Linked DNA regions of Homo sapiens: all the other regions are linked to region 3. The links come from fine-mapping of genetic effects on gene expression. A gene starts in region 3. Each other region holds a variant in brackets. All regions are shown on one strand. Distances are from middle to middle. Region 1 holds the start of DRAIC (downregulated RNA in cancer, inhibitor of cell invasion and migration). Region 2 overlaps PAQR5 (progestin and adipoQ receptor family member 5). Region 3 holds the start of RPLP1 (ribosomal protein lateral stalk subunit P1).

Region 1 (8,178 bases), 110 kb after region 3:
AGTTATGATCGTCCCACTGCACTCCAGCCTGTGTGACAGAGCACGATTCTGTTAGACTGGGTAACAGAGTGAGACCCTGTCTCAAAAATAACAGCAAGTAAGCAATCATGATTTTTTGACTTTTCAAGGAATTTGCAAACAACATGTATTCCCTTTGCCCATCTAGCTTTTGGGAAAGGACACCCAAATTCCAACAGTCACCTACCTAGAAAAATAGATAACCACAGCCATGGTCCATTCCATTGCGACTTGGTGATGTCAGAAGGTCTCAGGCTCAGGAGGGGCATCTCCCAGGGTCTCTCAGCAAATATCCCGATTCCTTAAACTGGGACAGTGTTTTCTGTCTGCAGAGTGTGCTCCCACCTTGGAATGGGCTTGTCTGGCCTGACCCTGAATATGCCCAGCAGGGACTGCATCCCTCAGTTCATAGATACAGAGGTTGAAGGTCAGGGAGGTGAAGACAGAAGGGGCAGCCAGTCAGAGCCAGCAGCTGCAGCAGGACCCAGATTTCTTGATTCTGAGTCCAGGATTCTTTCCACTCCACCAGCTCTCTTGTATGGACAGCTCAGGGGTCAGAGAAAGCACCTTTATTTCTGAATTTCCTTCTTCTCTCCTGTAGCCTTATGACCAGTGTTCAGAAGATTTATCTCTTTCTAGCTTGGGACTTGCACCCAGCAAGTTTCCATGCAAGGCAGCTGCCTTTAAGAAGAACAGAAGAGTCCCAGTTGGGCTTATGGGGAATGAAATCAGTCCCAAGCCCCGATCTCTCTGAAAAGTTGTTATTAAATTCTGTGCCTGGCCCTGACCTGGATTTAAAGATTTGCAAGAAGACAAATTCCAAACAGATGCCCATTAGGGCCGTGACAGCCGCAGCTTAAAGATAACATTTACATTCTGCCGGGGTTTGTATCTCTCTGTTCCCCACTCGGCCCCTCTCTTTCCTCCGGTGGGATCAATACCTCGGTTGAGGTTACGTGGAGGTGGCCACATTCTTTTAAGCTGTTTGCTCAGTGCTTGGTTTGCTCTGCTAACACGCTGGGCACTTCTTCCAACAGCCCTGTTTGCCCAGCATTAGGGCTGTTTGTTGAAACACCTAGCCCAATCCGAGGGGGCTCAGCTTTCTAAACAGTTGGTCCCCGAATCTGTCAATCAATAACACCAATTGGGTTCCTGATACGAACAGCAAGTGTGGCCAAGTCCAATATTTGCCCAAACACTGCCTCCTCCCCCTGCACCTGACTGTCCCCCAGCTTGACTAAAAGGACGATCACCAGGCGCATGGGCTGCTGGGAAGATACAATGTTGGCAAACAGGGAGCTGGTTCCAGGAAAGAAGGGCACATGAGCAAACATGATGGCCCCTTTATGAGAGGTAATTTACTGAAATGCACAGCGATTACCTGCTCACCCAGCCCTGATGTAATTAAAAATGGCAGGCTAGGGGCTCTGTTTCCCCCGGCTCTGGCAGAGAAACCTGGGTTTCGACTTGTGAAGCTTGAGGTTGGATGTGGGAATTGGCTTGGAGTCATAGGCGATGAGAGGGACATTAGGATATTATGAAGCCCGTGAACTCAACTCCTGAGAAGGACGCAGCAGAGCGAGAGAAAAGGTATCTTCAAAAGAGGCTGATGTTCAGTGGGTACGGGCTTTTCTTTTGGGATGAGGAAAAAAATGTTTTAGAACTTGTGAGAGGTGTTGGTTGTGCAGCATCGTGAATGGACTAAATGCCAAAGAATCGTTCACTTTAAAATGGTTAATTTTATGTTGTGTGAATTTCATCGAAAAAAAAAAAATAAAAAGGGTGAATCCCAATGAACCCGGGTCGTTTACATTTCAGAAGCTCTAATGCCTAACTCAGGGTTTGGCTCAGAGTAAATGCTTAATAAATGTTTATTGAAAGAACAACCTAACATTTGCACAGTCAACAAAGCTCTTTGTTATACATTAGCTCATTTCATTTTTAAAGAATCCTCTGAGGTGGGCAGGGGTAAGCATTCTCGTGTTGTAAAGGGGAAACTAAGGCTTTGAGAGGAGTGTGGCTTGCACAGTGTCACGTAGCTAGTGGCAGCACTGCCAGAATTCAAACCCAAAAGTCTCTGGCTCCAAAGTCTGTGCTTGTAAAGCGATACTATTTTGTCTACCTCATGGCTTTCAGGATGGGAAAGAAAGCAATAGGGTTTTAAAATATGTTCTCTCCCCTTCTTTTTTTTAAGGGTATTTATTACTAAAAGTGTTTTAAAACTGGACCACTGAGTAAAGTCACTCCATCTCCTACTGTTCCTAGCACAGTGCTTGATAAATATTTGCTGGCTCATTCAGCTGCAGCTGCAGAGACCTACCTGTGTTTGCTGTGGCGACTGTCCGGGCCAAAGCTCAGGCAGCTGGAAGTATCAGTGAAGCCAGAAGATTCTAGCTGTTCAGGGTCTGTGAGGAGGAGTCAAGGTCTGGGGTTTGTGTCCTCTGGCATAGCAATGGCACTGCAATGGGGGAGCCTGTTGCTGGGCTGGGCCATCTCGCCACTGTCACCTGCCTGTTGAGGGGTGACGGTGGTTGTTGAGAGGCTGGATCAGACCCCAGAGGTGACATGGATGTGGCATATTTGTTGGACTTACACAGCCTTGCATTTTATTTTCATCTCTGTTCCTTCCTCCCATGAGATCTTGGGTGGTGTTTATCAACCCTGAGTAATCGTTTCTTTGTCTGCAAGATGGAATAAAAAGGCCTACCTCATTGGGCTCGTGTGGGTGAGGAGAACTGAAGAGTCTGAGAGCGCGGCACGAGCCAGAGGCTACGGAAAACACTGCCCTCCTACACTCCACCTTGGAGAGACCCAGAAAAGAACAAGCTTCATTTGTAAAAAAGGAAAACAACTCAGGCAATGGGGGTGGCTTAAAGTGAGTACCCTCAAGGGGCTCGATCAGACCTCTGGCCAGAGAGCCTTTTGGGAGTGGGGTGAGGGTTGGTTGTTGCAGGGTAAAGGAAGTTGGTGTCTTTGGGAGGGGCGCTTGGCTGTGAGGTGACCTCTAGTTGTATTTGGCATAAGGGGAGAGGAGGGAACAGGGATTAGTAAGGAAGAGGGCTAAGAGACTGCCAAAGGTCTCCCTGTTTTGCCAGGGTTCTGGCTGGTGGGAAGCTGGGCCAGGGAGGTAGGGACAGGAGTAATCACCCTCTATGATTGCAGGGCACTCTACAGTGTGCAGATGCCTTCCACTTCTTCCATCTGCCCTGTCTCTCCAAGAACCCCTATGGCCCCGGTCTCAGAACAGAGCTGAGTGCAGAAATGAAAATCTATGGCTCTGTGTTCCAAAACGATGAAGAATTTCAAGATGGTGGCAGTGGTAAAATCTTTCTCCAGGAAAAATCTGTCCTTGGCCCAATGTGTAAACACTTGCTGAGGTACTGTGGAGCTTCATAATGCTGATGATATTGATGATGATGATAAGTATATAAGCTTCACATTAGGACAGTTTTTGTTTTTGTTTTTTTGAGACAGAGTCTCACTCTGTCACCCAAGCTGGAGTGCAGTGGCACCATCATGGCTCACAGCAGCCTCGACCTCCCAGGCTTAAGCGATCCTCTCACCTCAGTCTACCGAGTAGCTGGGACTACAGGTGCGTGCCGCCATACTTGGCTAATTTTTGTATTTTTTTATAGAGGCAGGGTTTCACCATGTTGCCCAGGCTGGTCTCAAACTCCTGGGCTCAAGCAATTCACTGCCTCCGGAAGTGCTGGGATTACAGGTGTAAGCTACCATTCCTGGCCTTAGGACAATTTTATTTATCTAATTTAATTTAATTTTTTTTTTTAGATTTTTAAAAATTTTTATTTATTTATTTTTTTAATTATACTTTAAGTTCTAGGGTACATGTGCACAACGTGCAGGTTTGTTACATATGTATTCATGTGCCATGTTGGTGTGCTGCACCCATTAACTCGTCATTTACATTAGGTATATCTCCCAATGCTATCCCTCCCCGCTACCCCCACCCCACGACAGGCCCTGGTGTGTGATGTTCCCCACCCTGTGTCCAAGTGTTCTCATTGTTCAATTCCCACCTATGAGTGAGAACATGCAGTGTTTGGTTTTCTGCTTAGGACAATTTTAATACTTATCCTTTAATAAAAACTTTATTGCACATGGAAGTTACTTTGGGGGAACTCCTAGTTGTAGAGTTGGCTCTTGAAACAAGACTCACTCATAGGCATTTATTTCTAGAATAACATTGTCAGGGTACAGAATTGTATCCTTTAGGTGGGACACAAATCCTAAAATGACATCCTTTTCAGGTATAATTTGTGTCTGGTATCTGGTATCAAATATTCTTGCTTTTAAAAAGTAGATTCAAAATGAACAATGATAGCACAGTGATTGTGAAGATGAAACAAAGTAACTTGAGTTGCCTGATTTGATCATTCTAGGTGGC[C/T]GGTGGAGTTATTTCTGTTTAAAATTTAAAACAATGAAACAGAGTATGAAATGTGAGGTGTAATATTTGTGTTTAGTAAGTGTATATTTTAGTTCATGCTTGAAATATTTTACTGAATTTCAATAATGTTTTTAAATTGAAACTTACTTTTTAATTATTTTGAAATGGCAGAACAAAATACAGACCATAGATTTATCAATGTTGTACCGTCTGCTAACATTTTGCACTTATTAAAATCCTCTCATTGGTCTCTGAATAATTATTTACATAAATTATTAGAATGTCACCAAAGGATGAAAGTCAAACTGATAGGTATATTTAAACATAAGTAAGTAAATAATTGTGCATCGTTGTCCTGTAGGAACTTGGAATAACTTGCAGTGTCTTGCAGTATTGTGAAACCAGCAACTTGTTCACAATTCTTCTGAATTTCTTGGGAAATTTGAAGTGGAGTACCTGTACCAACATGAAATGACACGAATTTAAGTGACGCTCAACAACGAAAAGCAAAAAGAACCAAAGAGGAAGCAACTGAAACAACATCTGGATGTATTTAAAAATATACAATGCCTCCAAAATCAGGTGTCATTAATGAAAATTCTGAAGAAATGCCACCGGACATAGCCAACGCACCTACGCTGTTGTTATTCATTTCCTGCTTTTCACAGAAAACAATTTTGTTGCATGGAAGATCGGTGAGTTAAAAAAAGACCTGCCCTGGGTGTCAAGCACAGTAGTTACACCGCTGGTTCTGCTCCCTCTGCTTGGGATACATGGGCAGGGTGCCCTGGTGGTAGGGCCTTGGTCACCAGCAAAGTCAGTTCCCATGGGATCCTCTTTCTGAGCTGATGCCCACTCCCCTGAAGAAGGGGCTTCTATTCAGGCCTCTTGTTGCAAGGAGCAGAAACCCACTTAGGCTGGCTCAAGTCCGCTGTGTTCCGCTGTTCAGCATCCTGTTTCACAGATGTGTCCCAGCCTCTCTTGGGGTATGACACGAGGCTGGCAGGGGAGACCCAGGGAATGTCACCAGTCCTTGGGGTTGCCTCAGCTCAAAACAGTCCTTCCTTTTAGCCTTTTTTTTTTTTTTTTTTTTTTTGAGATTGGGTCTTGCTCTGTTGCTCAGGCTGGAGGGCAGTGATGTGATTTCGGCTCACTGCAGCCTCCACCTCCTAGGCTCAAGCAATCCTCCCACCTCAGACTCCTGAGTAGCTGGGACTACAGGCACGTGCCACCATGCCTAAGTTTTAAATTTTTTTTGTAGAGACAGGATTTCGCCATGTTGCCTAGGCTGGTCTCAAACTCCTGAGCTCAAGTGATCCACCTGACTCAGTCTCCCAAGGTGCTGGGATTATGGGCGTGAGCCACCCTGCCCGGCCTCCTTCCTTCCACTTTTAGGTAGCTGTGTTCAGAGTGCGTCATCCAGCAGAGGCAAACAGGTACAAAATTTCTTCCAAGGCCCTGTGGGAAATTTTTATTAATTCAGTTGACAAATATGTGTTAAGTGCCTTCTTTAAGGACAGACAATGTCAGACCTGACTCAGAGGCTGTCTTCCTTGGGGAGCTATGGCAAACATGAGCATGACCAGAATTCAAGGAAGGGCAGGACGGGGGCTCTAAGAGAGAGGGAGGTGAGTTGTTATGGGCATGTGAAGAAGGGTGAGAGAACTTCGCCCCAGGGGTCTCCAGGAAGGGCTGGGGGCCTTTGTAGAAACTGAGATGTGCCAGGAGAGAACATCTTCTAAAGAATGGCATGCTTGGCTGGGCGCAGTGGCTCACACCTGTAATCCCAGTGTGTCCGGAATTGGTGGGTTCTCGGTCTCAACTGACTTCAAGAATGAAGCCGCGGACCCTCGTGGTGAGTGTCACAGCTCTTAAGGTGGCGTGTCTGGAGTTTGTTTGTTCTTCCTGGTGGGCTCGTGGTCTCGCTGGCTTCAGGACTGAAGCTGCAGACTTTTGTGGTGAGTGTTACAGCTCATAAAAGCAGTGTGGACCCAAAGAGTGAGCAGCAGCAAGATTTATTGCAAAGAGCAAAAGAACAAAGCTTCCACAGTGTGGAAGGGGACCCGAGCGGGTTGCCACTGCTGGCTCGGGCAGCCTGCTTTTATTCTCTTATCTGGCCCCACCCACATCCCGCTGATTGGTAGAGCCGAGTGGTCTGTGCGGACAGGGCGCTGATTGGTGCGTTTACAATCCCTGAGCTAGACATAAAGGTTCTCCACATCCCCATCAGATTAGTTAGATACAGAGTATGGACACAAAGGTTCTCCAAGGCCCCACCAGAGCAGCTAGATACAGAGTGTCAATTGGTGCATTCACAAACCCTGAGCTAGACACAGGGTGCTGACTGGTGTGTTTACAAACCTTGAGCTAGATACAGAGTGCCGATTGGTGTATTTACAATCCCTGAGCTAGACATAAAGGTTCTCCACCGCCCCACCAGACTCAGGAGCCCAGCTGGCTTCACCCAGTGGATCCCGCACCAGGGCTGCAGGTGGAGCTGCCTGCCAGTCCCGCGCAGTGCGCTCGCACTCCTCAGCCCTTGGGTGATCGATGGGACTGGGCGCTGTGGAGCAGGGGGCGGCACTCATCGGGGAGGCTCGGGCTGCATAGGAGCCCATGGAGCAGGTGGGAGGCTCAGGCATGGCGGGCTGCAGGTCCCCAGCCCTGCCCCGCGGGAAGGCAGCTAAGGCCCGGTGAGAAATCGAGCACAGCGCCTGTGGGCTGGCACTGCTGGGGGACCCAGTACACCCTCTGCAGCCGCTGGCCCGTGTGCTAAGTCCTTCATTGCCTGGGGCCGGCAGGGCCAGCTGGCTGCTCCGAGTGCGGCCCGCCAAGCCCACGCCCACCCGGAACTCCAGCTGGCCCACAAGCGCCGCGCGCAGCCCGGGTTCCTGCTCGTGCCTCTCCCTCCACACCTCCCTGCAAGCTGAGGGAGCCGGCTCTGGCCTTGGCCAGCCCAGAAAGGGGCTACCACAGTGCAGCGGTGGGCTGAAGTGCTCCTCAAGTGCCGCCAAAGTTGGAGCCCAGGCAGAGGAGGTGCCGAGAGCAAGCGAGGGCTCTGAGGAGTGCCAGCACTCTGTCACCTCTCACCAGCACTTTGGGAGGCCGAGGCAGGTGGATGACTTGAGGCCAGGAGTTGGATAGCAGCCTGGCCAATGTAGGGAAACCCCGACTCTACTAAAAATAAAAAATTCAGCTGGGCGTGGTGGCACACACCTGTAGTCCCAGCTACTTGGGAGGCTGAGGCAGCAGAATCGTTTGAACCCGGGAGGCGGAGGTTGCAGTGAGCTGAGATTGCACCACTGCCCTCCAGCCTGGGCGACAGAGCAAGATCCTGTCTCAAAAAAAAAAAAAAAAAAAGAAAAGAAAAAATGAAGACTGGCATGCTGTGTTTATTTATACCAGCTCTGTGACTTTGAGCAAGTCCCCCCTGCCTTCTGGGACACAGCTCCCTCCTCTGATGAAGCGGGGTGGGAGGGCCAATGGTCTGACATTGACATTATGGGCTGAATGTAATGAGGATAAAGTCAGGCAATCACAGAGCGCCAGCCCCCATCCAGAGTTAAGTGCTTAATAAACGGTGACTGATGGCAGGTTCTCAGGGTGTCCCAGGAACTTCCCCTTCGCTGGTGGTTCTCTACCCTGAGGCAGAGTAGAATCAAGGACTTAACTCAGACCTTCACTCAGAAAAGGCCTTTCTGCAGGTGCTGGGCTAATTCTGGGATGTGGTTCTCTGATGAGAGAACCCAGTCCAC
Region 2 (8,178 bases), 120 kb before region 3:
TCACTGAACTAGATGGTAAATTATATATGTATATTTTACCTAAATTTATTTTTTCTTTCTTTTTTTTTTTTTTTTTTTTTTTTTGGAGAGAGAGCCTTGCTCTGTCACCTCGCTCTGTCTGATTGTTACCAGTGCAGTGGTGCAATCTTGGCTCACTGCAACCTCTGCCTCCCAGGTTCAAGCAATTCTTGTGCCTCAGTTTCCTGAGTGGCTGGGACTACAGGTGTATGCCACCACACCCGGCTAATATTTTGTATTTTAGTAGAGACAGGGTTTCATCATGTTGTCCAGGCTGGTCTTGAACTCCTGAGCTCAGGCAATCTGCCTGCCTTGGCCTCCCAAGGTGCTAGGAGTATAGGAATGAACCACTGCAAACAGCCTCAATTTTCGGTTTTTAAATCATCCTAAAAGTTTTTGCCGCTGATGGCTCACTCTCCTGAATGTGTTCTTTGTAGTAATAGTAGCCATAATAGTAGCCATAGTGGTAAATACCACTGGCATTGATTCAGGGTTTTGTAGCTAATAAAGTTTGTTCACATCTATTATTATTTCATTTTAGCTCCCCCATAGCCCTGGCCAGGTAGGTATTAATGTTTTTATTTCACAGATGACAAAAATGAAAGTCATTTGGAACAAGCCCAGCCAAATTCATACCTAGGAGATGGTAGAGAGAAGACCTGACCTTGGTCACCCAAAATCCCAAGCTCTATGTGCCTCTCCCCATCTTCATAGAACATTCTCCAAGCTTAGGCAGTCCAGGGTACTTGTTACAATACACCAGGGAATGTTAGTGAAACCACCTGTGCAAAATTATGACTGAGACCGTGAAAGAGATCTAACTTAACTGACTCCATCTTGCTTCTAACCCCAAGCTGTCTTTGTTCATTCCTGGGCATAGGCTGAACTTACTTTGGGAGAAACTGGGTTTGTAGTTTATGGTTTAAACAAAAATGGTAACAGCTCTTTCCCAAAGGAGACCTCCTTCTTGCCTGGGGACTAGATTAACATTAGCCACAGAATTAGAAATTATGGTTTAGGAGTCATGCAGTTGGAGGCCACAAGATTCTGACCCTCCCTAGACTGCTCTTAAGATCAGTGCTTGGGATATTTTGCAGACCCTGCACTCGGTGGATCAGCAGGCACCACCCAGATCAATGAACTGGCTCCTCTGATCTTGTGGCCCCCTCCCAGGAACTGAGTCAGTGCAAGAAGACAACTTCGACTCCCTATGATTTCATCCCTGACCAGCACTCCTGGCTCATTGGTTACCCACCCCCCAACCACCAACCAAGTTATCCTTAAAAACTCTGCTCCAGGAATGCTTGGGGAGACTTATTTGAGTAATGATAAAACTCCAGTCTCCCACACAGCAGGCTCTGCGTGAATTACTCTTTCTCTATTGCAATTCCCCTGTCTTGATGAATCGGCTTTGTCTAGGCAGCAGGCAAGGTGAACCCCTTGGGCACTTACAAATTTGGTGGCTCATCCAGGATTGCCCTTGTGGCTACCTGCCCATGGTTCGGTGGCCCCACTCCAGTGATGGATCCAGAAGCCAGCCCAAGCAGCCACCTAGTTCTCTTGGACTAGGGGCTGACTCAGGGACTCTCTGTACTGGTGGGGCACTGCCAACCCAGTGTACATCGATCTAATTGCAATGGAGAAATAGTCCTGGGGCGACGTTCCTTAACTGTAGCCCTATCACAGGGTGTCTGTATAGCCTATGATGGGGTGTCTGTCTGTAGCCCCATTGTGGGGTGTCTGGATTGGTGAGTAACCTAGGTGCTGCCAATGCCTCCTTCCTTCTCGCCACTGGTTCTGTAGCCCTATGGTGTGGTGTCTGTAACTCCACCATGGGGTGTCTTGTGTCTGTAGCCCCATTGCAGGGTGTCTGTTCAGCTCCTGCGGGGTCTCAGTTGGCTCTTTCTAACTAGTAAGAAGAGTCTTGGTTTGAGAGACTTATCCTCAATCTGGAAGATTTCGAGGCAGTTTCTCAGACGGAGAATAGGAGGATAGTTTGGAAGGGATACTCTTGGAGTTCTTGGTTAGGGATCTGATTTAGAAGGCCTTCTGTCTATCTCGTCTTTGTGTGTGTCTGTGTATGTGGAAGGGATCTCAGGAGAGGTTGCTAATGGAAGTCCAGCAGGTCTAACTCAGAGATCCCTCCTTATTTGCCTGGTTACATTTGGTAAGCCCTAAAGAAAGCTCAACAGGCCTGTCTCTCGGGGTGACTATCTGGTCTTCGCCTTGCCCAGAGACTCCATTGTGAATTACCATTTGGAGGTCATCCCTCCCCTCCCCACCTGGAGTGGATCAGAAACAGGGAGCAACGGGAAAAAGTTTGAGCTTTACCAGACTTATATTGGGTGCTGAATGAGGTGACTAATGTCTGTTCTGTTGTGTATATTTTGCTGGGATGGAAAATGTTAATTTGGTTCCCCATGCAACCTGTTGGTTAGCATCTTGCAAATTGAGAATCTTGCCTATGGTTCCATAAAACAGTAAAGTGGTTTATTTTTTCTCTTGTAAGTGGCTTGAACCTCACAGCTATAGCACAAGCGAGCAGGGTCATGAGAAGCCACTCTTTCTTCTGGAAGCTGCAGAGAAAGAGAACCCAGAAACCGGGTATGCCAGCAAAAAGGGTGAGAAATTCTTACCAGCGAAGATTCTGGTCTCTCTTTCTCTGTCTGGGTAAAACAGTAAACTATTGGTCTCCTCTGCAAGGGTTTGATTAATAGAAAAAAGGATTTGTGAGACTAGTCTTAGGCGGTAGCAAATCTGCTGTACTTTGTGCTAAGAATTTGTTTTTCTTTGTTCTGTAATGGAGAGAGGGGTATCACAGGATAGAATGTGGGTTTAGGACCCCTATAAGCCCGCTTTTCAAGCCAGCTTGGCAGGCTGGTCAGTTACAAACCTTGCTACAGGTTCCTGAAACCAATACTGGATGAAATTTCTCTGTCTTGCTTTGTGTCCTTAAGAGCTTAACCTTTTGACCATGTGGGGATACTTTCTCTTGGTTTCTGCCATCCAGAGGACAGGAATTTTGGGGTTCATGTCATAGTCCTAAAAATTTTTTCTTGAGCAGTTAAAAGCCTGTGCAAGCTTGAAATTGGCTTCTCTAGGCTCCTTCTGGGGAGAGGAATAGAAACTGCTCAATGCTGTAACTCAGTAGCTGAGGCTTTGCTTTTTGACAATGGCAGCCTGAGTTTTAGTCTTGGCTTCTGGAATGATTCCTTTCTGAGTTTTATTTATGAAACTTTGCCATTTATTGAGGTTCCCCACCCCACCCCCACCCCGGCCAACCCATGGATAGCTTCTGATTTCCTGTCTTGAGTTTTCCTTTCTCTAAACTACCCTGGGGGAGATTCTAAATCTTGTAAAAAAAAAAAAAAAAAAAAAAAAAAGAAACGGCTTACCTTCTCCTTGAGACATGAATGTGTCCATGGTTAAGTTATAACCTTAGCTAAAACTTATTAATTTCATGTGGGAAGTTAACTGTGGTAGAATTTAAAAGCCAAAAATACTGGTC[G/A]CTTAGTGTTAAAGTCGGGTAATAAAAAATTTAAAAGGATATTTTTTAAAGAGCGCTATGGTTAAAAGTCAGCTTAATTAAAAGTGGATAAACAAGCAATAGGTATATTTAAAAGGCCTTTATGTTTTCCTCTTTTTGGGACTTGTTTTTTTCCTGGGAAAAGGTTTTTTCTTCTCAGTTGACTGAATTATTTTTTTCCATTTTTTTTTATCTTGCCAATCTTAATACACACATGAGAGGCCCTAAGATAACTTCTGGTAGCCTGGGACTCCTTGGGAAAAACAGAGGAGGCACCACGAACCCCGTTTTGGAAAAAAGGCTCTGTTTTCCTCATGAAACCCCAGGAATTAAAAGCGGATAGATCCCTCTCAGAATCAAAGGCTCTGTTCTGTTTTTCACTGTGTTATCTGACAGTTTTGATTTTTAGGGGTATCAGAAATTACTTATTATGAGAGAGCTTTGGTGTGTAATAACTAGGTAGGAAATATACTTTAGGGAGTGGCTAATAGTAGTTGTGGAGGGATACTTGACTCTGCACACTTGGATCAGAGACGCATGCTCTCGGCCACCTGGAAGATAAGGAGGCGTCCCCACCCCGCACTGGGAGATGAGACTCCTGTGAGAGATGGGCCGATTACAAAATGGGCTGATTGGCTTTGGGTTGCCTTGAATGGAATGCAGGGTAGAAGCATTGCACGGTCTTCTCCCACAGTATTTCCCTCCTGTTGGGGATCCAGGATCCAGTATAAAATGGCACCCTTAATTTTGGGGATCTGTCTTTGCCTTCAGCTGCTTATTTGCTGCTTATTTGGCTCTAGAAATGCATGCTTTCCCGGCCCTGCTCCTCCAAGGGCTCCACCCTAAAGCCAGTCACCCAATTAAGAAACTGGCAAATGAAAAATTTTACAAGTGCTGAATCTTCTGTCTGTCTGTATTCATATGTGTTGTGTGTGTGTGTGTGTGAGATGTTTGTATAAAAGAGCTCTGGTTAATTGGCTTAGAAATATAAGCATTTAAATCAAATATTTTATCAGAAAAATAGAAACCGTAATACCTTTTTGTTCACATGACTTTAGTAGTCTTTTGGAAATAAAGACGGTTTTTTTGTTTTTTCTTTGAGATGGAGTCTCACTCTCTCACCAGACTGGAGGCAGTGGCGCAGTCTTGGCTCACTGCAACCTCCACCTCCCGGGTTCAAGTGATTCTCCTGCCTCAGCCTCCCAAGTTGCTGGGGCTACAGGCGCCCGCCACCACGCCGGGCTAATTTTTTTGTATTTTTAGTAGAGATGGGGTTTCACCATGTTAGCCAGGATGGTCTCGAGCTCTTGACCTCGTGATCCACCCACCTCGGCCTTCCAAAGTGCTGGGATAACAGGCATGAGCCACTGCACCCGACCTGGGAAATAAAGACAGTTTTAAAGATTATTGGTAAAATAAAATGTCTTGAAAATGTAGACATTTGGTCTAAAATAAGGTCAGGTATCAGATTTGCTAAATGCTTTAAGGTCAAACTGTTTCTTTGACTTTTGAGAATTGTTCAATTTCCCTACTTTGGAGCATTAGATGATAGGTAAGGCCTGGGGACATGTGGAGAGCCATGCCCGCCAGCTATGCTAAGAGTCAGACCTTATCTTCATTTCTGATTGATGTCCTAGGCTCCACCCCAGTACATAATTAAAATCGCTTACTTACCAGGTTTTTCACTAAAAATAAAAGTTGCTAAGATTTAACATTGTAATATGTAGTTGAGACCACTGGAGAATGCGTTTTACATACTAGGTGTGTAGGGAATGTGTTTTTGGTAAAAGATGATCAGAAGGCATGGGAATATGGCTTTTGTTAAAGGGAATGTAATTTTGTCTACTTCAGAGGGTTTTAAAGATTGTCTTAACCCAAAAGAGTAATGGAACAAAACTGAAGGTTTAAGCAAAGGGAAAGGGGTTTGTAAAGGGTTGATCTTGTAACAAATTCTGTGGGTATAAACAAGTTGGCTAAGATTTAAAAGAAATTGGCTGGGCGCGGTGGCTCACGCCTGTAATCCCAGCATTTTGGGAGGCTGAGGAGTGGGGATCCCTTGAGGTCAGGAATTCAAGACCAGCCTGGCCAACATGGTGAAACCCCAACTCTACTGAAAAAATACAAAAATTAGCCGGGCCTGTGGCAGGTGCCTGTAATCCCAGCTACTCAGAAGGCTGAGGCAGGAGAATCGTTTGAACCCAGGAGGTGGAGGTTGTAGTGAGTCAAGATTGTGCTCAAGCATGGGCAACAGAGTGAGACCATGTCTCAAAAAAAAAAAGATTTAAAAGAAATTTTAGCTTTTTTTTTTTTTTTTGAAATGGAGTTTTGCTCTTGTTGCCCAGGCTGGAGTGCAATGGCATGATCTCGGCTCACCACAACCTCTGCCTCCTGGGTTCAAGTGATTCTCCTGCCTCAGCTGCCCAAGTAGCTGGGATTACAGGCATGAACCACCACACCTGGCTAATTTTTTATTTGTAGTAGAGAAGGGGTTTCTCCATGTTGGTCAGGCTGGTCTCGAACTCCCCACCTCAGGTGATCTGCCCGCCTCGGCCTCCCAAAGTGCTAGGATTACAGGTGTGAGCCACCGCATCCAGTTTTTTTTTTTTTTTTTTTTTTTTTGAGACAGAGTCTCACTCTGTCGCCCAGGCTGGTGTGCAGTGGCACGATCTTGGCTCACTGCAACCTCTGCCTCCCAGGTTCAAGCCATTCTCCTTACCTCAGCCTCCCGAGTAGCTGGGATTACAGATGCATGCCACCCTTAGGTTAAAGCATTAAAATCATACTGATGTGGGGCCAGAATCTGGGTCTGTGTGTCCGAATAACAGGGTTTTCTTAGAAAACTGATCTGCTGTTGGATGGAAATTTGTAAAGAGTTCTAAAAAGTTTATAAAAATCTTACCTTATGGTCAGACTAATTACAACTGGATCGAGATATAAAATTTTATTTAAAAAACTAGCTTTAACATTAAAGATGCACTAATGCAAGCCTGAAATTTGGTTTTCTCTTTTGAAGACGATTTTTATGTAATGTTAAAAGATAATGAAAGTGGTTTTGTTTTCTCCTTTGGGTAAGTGGCAGGAAAAAAAAGGAGGAGAGAGAGAAAGGAGACAGATTCAGGTGGCTTCATGCTATCTTCATTGAGTCTTGTTTGGAAAGCTAAGTCTCCTCTATCAGAGTAAAGGCTTTCTTTTTTAAAAAAATTTTTTGGAGTTATCATTTTGGCTAAGTGAATGACTTATGGTGACCTGGGATTCTATTTTGTGATATCCAGTGTTTTAAACCTTTGATATTTGACAAACTTTCCAAAATCAAATTATAAATTATATCTCTTTCTAACCTAATATTTTAGATATCAGGTCCTCTAAAGTCCAAAAATGACATTTGGCTTATTTGACATAAAAATCATACAGGAAGCATTGTCAAGTATGAAATGGTGTTTGGCTTTCTTTGGGCTATATTTGTGTAAATGTATTATTGGCATATGTTCCAAAATTATGTAAAACTCCTAAAATTCTAATATGACTTTGTATATGTTATCAGTAATAATTATAATTATGTTAAATGGCTGTGTGCCACAGGTAACAAATCTCTTTGTCGATCGTGTCTTTAACTGTGGCTACCCTATAATGTTTTTGTCATCCACAGATGATTGTTGTCTTATTTTGGTCCTCCTAAAAGTTGGTTTTATAATCAGCTGTAAAATTTAACAGGTGCTCTTAAATGCAGATTTCTGCTTAATAACTCTGGAGATTGTGACTTTAGAATAGACAGAAAACTTTCAAAAGAAAGAGAGAATGGTGTTTGGTTTTCTTTGGACTGTATTTGTATAAATATGTTATTAGTATGTGTTCCAAAAGTTATGGGAAACTTCTATAATTCTGATATGATTTAGTGTACATTATTAATAATTATAATTGTTATGTAAAATTGTTGTATGCCACAGAAGTGGAAGAACCAAAATTCCTAGTCAATTGTAGCTTTAATAGTGGCTATAGACTTTTGTCATCCACAGACATTTTGTCTTGCTTTGGTCCTTTTCAAAAGGCAATTTATAATCAGATACAAGACTCTGAGTGCAGGTCTCAGATAACTTTAAAAATTGTACTATTGGAATAGAGGAAAAAAGGAAACTTCTAGGACTCTCGTGGAGAGCTGGTATGTTAAACATTGCTAATCCTTTTGTTTTCAGAGTAAAGATTACTTATTTCTTTAGAGCTATTTGCAAGCTTTAACAAGTGAGTAAAATATACTCCTGTGGAAAATTTTGGAGCATATTTGTTTCTCTCTACCTGATTGCTCTAGAATTTGGAAACCATTTGTGTGTATTCTCAATTTATGGCAGTATAGTTAATTACATAAGTGCAATAAGAATCTGTTTTCTTTTGTCACAGGACACCATTGGAGAAACTGGGCATTTTACCAAGGATTTGACTGGAATGGCATGCTTCCTTTAAAGATGAAAGTTGACTTTTAGAGCCAATTAAAGCCCTTTGGGGAATCTGGCCTCATACCTTGTCCACACAGAGTTCCTGTACAAGGTTCCTGACCTGTGGTAAGTAAAGAACGTCACTTTCTAACAGGCCCAGGAACCCCAGGTTATCTTGGGACCTCAAGAGGAGAGGATTTTGCTCAA
Region 3 (8,154 bases):
GTTTCGCTCTTGTTGCCTAGGCTGGAGTGCAATGGCACGATTTTGGCTCACCGCAAACTCTGTCTCCTGGGTTCAGGCAATTCCTCTGCCTTAGCCTCCGAGTAGCTGGGATTACAGGCATGCGCCACTACGCCCAGCTAATTTTGTATTTTTAGTAGAGATGGTTTCTTAATGTTGGTCAGACTGGTTTTGAACTCCCAACCTCAGCCACCTGCCTCGGCCTCCCATAGTGCTGGGATTACAGGTGTGAGCCACTGTGCCCGGCCACTTTTTTTTTTTTTTAACTAAAATGATAGTTTAATCTTTTGTTATTAATAATAAAAGTGTGATATCAGTCCTTGCCAAAAGCCAACTCAAAAGTTAAGGGAGAAGACAAAATGCACTAGTCACTCACAGTATAGTAGTAAACAATGTCATATATGTGTGTGTGTGTGTGTTTTTGAGGGGAGGGATGGATTTTCACTCTTGCCCAGGCTTGAGTGCAATGGCGCAATCTCGGCTCACCGCAACCTCCGCCTCCTGGGTTCAAGCGATTCTCCTGCCTCAGCCTCCCCAGTAGCTGGGATTAAAAGCATGAGCCACCAGGCCCAGCTAATTTTGTATTTTTAGTAGAGACGGGGTTTCTCCATGTTGGTCAGGCTGGTCTTGAACTCCTCAGGTGATCCGCCCTCCTCAGCTTCCCAAAGTACTGGGATTACAGGCGTGAGCCACTGCACCTGGCCTATATGTGTGTTTTTAGAACGCTTCAGGACACTAAAGGTTAAATTGCTATTGCAGTAGATACAGAATTTATTTCTTGATTTTCTTCTTAAAGTTTTTTTTTTAGAAACAGGGTCTTGCTCTGTTGCCCAGGCTGAAATGCAGTGGTGCAATCATGGCTCACTATAACCTCAAACTCCTGGATTCATGTGATCCTCCTGCCTCAGCCTCCCAAGAAGCTGGGACTACAGGTGCTCACCACCATGCCCAGCTAATTAAATTTTTAAAAATATTTTTGTAGAGCTGGTGTCTTGCTATGTTGCCTAGGCTGGCTTTTTTCTTTCTTTTTTGAGATGGGGTCTCATTCTGTCACCCAAAATGGAGTGCAATGACATGATCACAGCTCACTGTAGTCTCAACCTCCCAGGCTCAAGCAATCCTCTCACCTCAGCCTCTTGAGTAGCTGCAACTACAGGCAAATGCCAGCACACCTGGCTAATTTTTTATTTTTTGTAGAGATGGGGCCTTGCTCTGTGGCCTTGTCTGGTCTCAAACTCCTGGCCTCAAGCAATCCTCCCGACTTGGCCTCCCAAAGTGCTAGAATTACAGGCATGAGCCACAGCACCCAGCCTGCTTTTTAAATTATTATTTAAAATAATAGAGACAGCCCGGGCATGGTGGCTCACAACTGTAATCCCAGTACTTTGAGAGGCTGAAACAGGATGGCTTGAGGTCAGGAGTTCAAGACCAGCCTGAGCAACATGGTGAAATCCCATCCCTACAAAAAGTTTAAAAATTAGCCAGGTGTGGTGGCACGCACCTGTAGTCCCACCTACTGGGGAGGCTGAGGTGGGAGGATTGCCTGAGCCTGGGAGGCAGTGGTTGCAGGGAGGCAGTGGTTGCAGTGAGTTGTGATGGCACCACTGTGCCCCAGCCTGGGCAATGGAGTGAGACCCTGTCTCAAAAACAAACAAACAAAAAATTAATAGAGACTGGGTCTCACTATGTTGCCCCAGGCTGGTCTTGAACTCCTGGGCTCAAGCGATCCTCCCGCCTTGGCCTCCCAAAAGTGTTTGGATTACAGGCATGAGCCACCATGACCTGCCCCAGCCCACTTAAAAAAAAAAAATTTAGCCGGGCACAGTGGTTCACCCCTGTAATCCCAGCACTTTGGGAGGCCAAGGTGGGTGAATCACCTGAGGTTAGGAGTTCGAGACCAGCCTGGCCAACATGGTGAAACCCTGTTTCTACTAAAAATACAAAAAATTAGCTGGGCATGGTGGCACACGCCTATAATCTCAGTTACTCTGGAGGCTGTGGCAGGAGAATCGCTTGAACCTGGGAGGTGGAAGTTGCAGTGAGCCGAGATCGTGCCATTGCACTCCAGCCTGGGGAACAAGAGTGAAACTCCGTCTCAGAAAAAAAAAATTTTTTTTAATGGCTTATTGCATAGTATTTTCAAAATATTAATAGGAAATTTTTACTACGATAGGAGAATATGGGGCAGTGGAATTTGTCTGAAGTAACTGTTGAATCCACTAAGTCCTTCATCAACACAAAAGGAAATGCATGAGTACTGATGTTTTGCTTAACTACTTCTCTTGAATAGCTGTGGTTAGTGCTTACTGTTTGATACCCTGTAAAAAGTATTATCTATAATATATAGATGGAGAAGAAGATTATTTCCTCAATGACCACAAAGTGCCACTTGTCAACCAGATCAGTTTTGTTTTTTTGAGAGGGAGTTTTGCTCTTGTTGCCCAAGCCGGAGTGCAATGGCACAATCTCAGCGCAATGCAACCTCCGCCTCCTGGGTTCAAGCGATTCTCCTGCTTCAGCCGCCCTAGTAGCTGGGATTACAGGTGCCCGCCACCACGCCCAGCTAAATTTTTTGTATTTTTAATAGAGACAAGGTTTCACTATGTTGGCCAGGCTGGTCTCGAACTGCTGACCTCAGGCTATCCACCCGCCTCAGCCTCCCAAAGGGTTGGGATTGCAGGCGTGAGCCACCGCACCCGGCAGATCAGTTTTTTATGTACACTGCTGGACAAACAGTATTTTGGACTGACTCATTGTAGCTTTGGAAATGTTTGGATTTTTTAATAGCTTTAACCTTTCTTGACCAAAATTCCACTATAATGGCTGCTTAGATTTGGATGAAAACTCAACAGCTTTATTTTTTAAAAGTTTGATAGCTTTATAAATGCTTTTTTAAAAAATTCCGGATGTGAAAATATTTATGTTTGTAGTTAAGATTGACCCAAGTGGGACTCTAGATCGGTGGATTCCAACAGAAATGTTTCTTCAGAGATGATTATTAAATAATGGGATGGACTAAACAAAGAAGGTGCCCCCCCCCCACCAAAAAAAAAGATATATATACATAGAACTAACTTTCCGGTAAACTAAGCAAATTCCACGAGGAATGCAAAGATGACCATTTTTGAAGGTAGGAATTTAAATTGGGTTTAGATAACAAATAACGGGTTGTAGACAGCTTACCCATAATCCCTCCTTCCCCCAAGCACTAGGCAGTGAAGTTAGACTTCTGGATTCCACCTCCACGCTCACCGCGCGGCACTATGCAATCTTCGGTTAGTTACCAGGTCTAAGTTAGGCTTCTGGATTCCAACTCCACGCTCCACCGCGCGGAACTATGCAATCTTGAGTTAGCTACCGGGTCTAAGTTAGGCTTCTAGATTCCAAATCCACGCTCCACTGCGCGGTAACTACATAATCTTGGGCTAGTTTACCAGCTCTAAGACTTAATTTTGCCATATGCAAGATGGAGATAACATCCAACTCCTGGTGTGTGAGGATTACGTGAATCCTTGCAGAATGTGGCTCAGTGCCTGGGACATAGTAAGCGCTCTACGGCTTCTGCTAGCATAACGCTGTTAGTTTCTCTCATCCTCCTACATCTACCTATCTCAACCAAGGTCCTGCGCTAAGCAGGGGCCTCCAAGCTGGGACGCAGCCCTTACTCTCAGGGTCAGCGCCGGCTGGGAAGGCCGCGACCTAACCAGGAGATTACGAACAATGTCACCAGGGCCACAGCGGAGCTCCTGCCAAGTCAAGCAACTCATGGAACCAACGGAGGCGAAGTCCGAATACCTAGGCAACCCTAACCTAAAAGTGTTTTTAACGTTCTCAGGTCCTATAATTTACCCAAATAAAGTGGGACCGTATTTGCAGGCGCTGAGAAACTTTCTCAACAGTAAGAACCAATCAGGCGCAGTGCGCAGGCGCCTTCAGTGGGTCCTGGGTCCGCCTCTTCCGCCCGGTGCGGGCGCCGATTGGTCCGCGTGGACACATAAGAGGCTGCGTATAGGCGCGAGAGCCCCTTTCCTCAGCTGCCGCCAAGGTGCTCGGTCCTTCCGAGGAAGCTAAGGCTGCGTTGGGGTGAGGCCCTCACTTCATCCGGCGACTAGCACCGCGTCCGGCAGCGCCAGCCCTACACTCGCCCGCGCCATGGCCTCTGTCTCCGAGCTCGCCTGCATCTACTCGGCCCTCATTCTGCACGACGATGAGGTGACAGTCACGGTGAGTGCGGGCGCGGGCCGGCGGCCGGGCTGCCTGTGGGCGGTGACTTTCGGCTCTCCATGCGGTTCCCGGCTCCAGGCCGTTCGACTGAGCACTTCCGGCCGGGGCCAGGCCGCGAACACAGGCCGCATAGGGCGGGCGCTCCTCGGGGCTGGGGCCTCTCTCCGGGCAGGTCCTGGGCCCCCGGGACCACGTGCGGGCCCAGCGGGCATGGAGTGCGCTTGAGGCTGGGCGCTCCGGCTCCAAGAGCCTTCGTGTAGAAAAGCTCTTCCGCAGTGCTTGGGCACCCTGACCCGTGCCTCGTCTCTCTCAGGGACACTTACTCGGACCTCTTTCGGTGTAATTGCCTTGAATTCCCCCGGTCGTGGAGGAAGGCGCCCGAGCTCGGCTCCACCTCCCAGGTCTTGTAACTTAAAAATAGCCGCGTGACTCAGGCAAGTCCCAGCCCGTGAAACAGCAGTGATGGGCTCGCCTCATTGCAGGGCGCCTGGCACACATCTCTTTTGCTTGTGATAGAATATTTGAGCTGGTTAAACATGTTATGTACACTTATTGAGTGACGTGCAGCATTTTGGAGATATTACATACGCTACGTTTTGATGGATTGACGTTTTTATTTGTTGTAGGAGGATAAGATCAATGCCCTCATTAAAGCAGCCGGTGTAAATGTTGAGCCTTTTTGGCCTGGCTTGTTTGCAAAGGTAAGGTGATGGTGGCAAAGTGATTGTGGTAAGGCCTGCTGATTTACGAGGGCAGTTGTACATGCTAAAGTACCCCCAGCGGTGCCATAACGCCCCACATGCCGCTGGATCTCCTAGGTGTTTTTCGTTGCATGTATATCTCTAGGAGCTAATAAGATTTCAGCTTGTCAAGTCTTACGTTTCCTTATCAGACTCTGGTTTCCCTTTTGCTCTGAAACCATGGTTAAAAAAAATGTGAATCAGGTCATTTATTCCCAAAAAGGGTCACTCGGGAGATAGGTACTACGCATGTTAAGTTGCAAGCAAATTCTTTTTCTTTTTCTTTTTTTTTTCTTGAGACGGAGTCACCCAGGCTGGAGTGCAGTGGTGCGATCTCAGCTCACTGCAAGCTCCGCCTCCCGGGTTCACGCCATTATCCTGCCTCAGCCTCCCGAGCAGCTGGGACTACAGGCGTGCGCCACCATGCCTGGCTAATTTTTGTGTGTGTGTTTAGTAGTGACGGGGTTTCACCATGTTAGCCAGGATGGTCTCGATCTCCTGACCTCGTGATCCCCCCGCCTCTGCCTCCCAAAGTGCTGAGATTACAGGCTTGAGCCACCGCTCCCGGCCCGCAAGCAAATTCTTTCAGTAAATTCTTGCATTAAACCTATGGTTTGATGGACATTTGGGTTTAGCGGACTTCATTGACACAGTAGGTACTGTGTGTTGGGATATAAAAGACTAATAAAGAGGTTCCTGGTCATGGAGCTTGCACTGGCTATTTTCCATTGTACAGGTTACTTAATCTCTGTCAAGTGAAGCTAATAGCATCTAACTCCAGGGTTGTGACCTCTAAAGAGTTTTGAAAGATTGAAAACATTGTACCTATGTCATATTTAACAAGCCCCTTTTGAAGTCCTATATTTGTTTAGTAGACTGAAAATTTGAATTCACTGTTAAGAGGAGACATGGAACTGTGGAAAGAATATTCATTTGAGTGTTTCAGGAAGTTTGGATTTTTTTTTTACCAACATATTATTTGTAAAAGGAGGGAAATCAGCTGCCTCAGGAGGTTCTTAACATATAGGAATGTAATTATCAGATTCAAAGCTGAACAGTAGTGCGTTGCCCTGTAACCTAAGTCTTGGCTGTTAGCAAAGAAAAGCCAGTGTCTGGGGTATTGGTTCCAGGACCTTCCACTAATAACAAAATCCCAGGATGTTCCATCTCTTATATAAATGTATTTGCATATAACCTATGCACATCCTCCTGTATACTTTAGAAGTCTACATGTTTGGTACACATGCTTATTTTTCCACTGTTGAATCCATGGATGTGGAACTCACTGTATATAGTGTTAGGGGTTGATCACTGTAACCTGGAATGGGGGATACTTTTCGTTTTTGGCTGCGTGAGTGCTTAACAAGGACAGAACTGGGCGTTTACCTATGCATGCACATGTATTGCAGGCCCTGGCCAACGTCAACATTGGGAGCCTCATCTGCAATGTAGGGGCCGGTGGACCTGCTCCAGCAGCTGGTGCTGCACCAGCAGGAGGTCCTGCCCCCTCCACTGCTGCTGCTCCAGGTAGGAAACATGGAGTTTTTAGTATTGGGAGGAGTGTAGAGATTTTTTAAAAAATAGTATTATAGACAAAATTGCCATTAATTTTTCACAAGTATATGAAGTATGGAAATCCTAACACCTGATTGACTTTTTTTTTCTAGCTGAGGAGAAGAAAGTGGAAGCAAAGAAAGAAGAATCCGAGGAGTCTGATGATGACATGGGCTTTGGTCTTTTTGACTAAACCTCTTTTATAACATGTTCAATAAAAAGCTGAACTTTACTGCTGTTGGTCTTGTCCATAGTTTTGGAATGTGCTCTGCAAAAATGGTCTGTTTTGTAATGTTGGCTTTCAGCCTATTCTGCCATGACACAGGCTGGATTTTCCCTGCCACCATTGCCGGATGTGAGATTTAGACAATCCTGATGCTAACAAGAAGGCACCTCATGGTACAGTGTTGAAAACTGCACTGGGGTGGCAGGAGGAAGGATCAGAGCAGATGCTTTGTCCAGGTTACCTGTGTAAACTTGATGATTATAAGGTGTGTCCCCTACACTGGGGGTGGAGGGTAATACAGACCAGCTTTAGAAAGCCTCCTGGGTATTTACCCTATACAACCCTGCCTAAGAACGAACTTTGACGTATGCTGAATGTTGACTGCTACATCCCAAGGTTGTAAAAAAACAAGACTTAGCTATGTAATGTCTCACCAAATGTTTGGGAGTTTTATGGTAACACTGAAGGAGTGCAGAAAGTTTACTTAATAGTTTATTAAGGTCTCCAGTTACACAAAGTGGAAAAAAAAAAAGATTCAAACCTGTGTTCCAAAAACTAAGAGCTTTTTTTGTTTGCCAATTAATAATACCATGAATGGAATTTTCAACTTTTCAGGCTTGGATTTATATAATAAACCGTGGGTATTGTGTGTTCAGAGCAGCTAATGACATGCCAGGCACATGAATGAGTCTTATCCTTACCTCCATTAGCATTTAGTAGATGAAGACATTCAGTGATGAAAAGCGTGACTTCTAGCCGGGACTCCTCGTGTCAATGTGAAAAAGACCATTTGTGTAAGTTACTACAACTACTTGGGGAAAATGGCAGTTCTACTTTGAGGCATTACTCAAGAGAAACTACATGTGGACATAGGATACATGCCTGGGAATGTTCAAAGCAACACTTGGGGCTTCTCATAAGCTCAAAAAAGACATTAAATATATGCATCTGCTAAGAGTAATAAATACCAAAGACGGGATAGTGAACAATTTAGGACCTTGAGCAAGGTGGAGTTGACAATGGGTAGGAGTATGTAGGTGTCAGTATTAGAGTTTTATGTTTTAAGTTTTTTGAGAGGGGTTCTTTTGCTGTGGCCCAGGCTGGAGTGCAGTGGTGCAGCCATGGCTTACTGCAGCTTCAAACTCCCAGGCTCAAATCGGTCATCCCACCTCAGCCACCCTCAAGTAGCTGGGACTACAGGCATGCCACCATGCCTGGCTAATTTTTTGTAGGAAAACCTCAATCTCCTGGTGTTAAGTGATCTGCACGCCTTGACCTCCCGAAGTGCTGGGAGATTGCAAGTATGAGCCACCATGCCTGGCTAGTTTTGTGTTTTTAATACATGGCTTGAGCATCCCTTACCCAAAACCCAAAACGTAAACGTGACACGCA

Evidence for each region. PIP is the estimated chance that this variant, and not a neighbour inherited with it, causes the effect.
Region 1: its variant is fine-mapped to the expression of RPLP1 in whole blood (INTERVAL, PIP above 0.99).
Region 2: its variant is fine-mapped to the expression of RPLP1 in whole blood (INTERVAL, PIP 0.99).

What each region holds. Positions count from the first base shown.
Region 1 is chr15:69,560,410-69,568,587 of GRCh38, forward strand. DRAIC (downregulated RNA in cancer, inhibitor of cell invasion and migration) reads left to right here and starts at 1,311. Exons shown (of 5, transcript NR_026979.1): 1 at 1,311-1,608; 2 at 2,707-2,893; 3 at 3,181-3,395; 4 at 4,815-5,118. LOC124903517 (a long non-coding RNA gene) reads right to left here and starts at 6,500. Exons shown (of 2, transcript XR_007064696.1): 1 at 6,202-6,500; 2 at 4,550-5,881. The variant C/T (reference allele first, on the strand shown) is at 4,424.
Region 2 is chr15:69,329,405-69,337,582 of GRCh38, forward strand. PAQR5 (progestin and adipoQ receptor family member 5) reads left to right here. Exons shown (of 9, transcript NM_017705.4): 2 at 7,937-8,097. Among named protein-coding and RNA genes, the nearest start is that of PAQR5, 35 kb to the left of the region's middle. The variant G/A (reference allele first, on the strand shown) is at 3,527.
Region 3 is chr15:69,448,779-69,456,932 of GRCh38, forward strand. RPLP1 (ribosomal protein lateral stalk subunit P1) reads left to right here and starts at 4,040. Exons shown (of 4, transcript NM_001003.3): 1 at 4,040-4,242; 2 at 4,869-4,943; 3 at 6,392-6,509; 4 at 6,650-7,427. The coding sequence starts at 4,171. The coding sequence ends at 6,729. It overlaps LINC02896 (long intergenic non-protein coding RNA 2896), which reads right to left. Exons shown (of 3, transcript XR_932420.2): 3 at 7,242-8,154. RefSeq lists enhancers at 3,746-3,795, 4,076-4,325, 4,476-4,585 and a silencer at 4,346-4,395.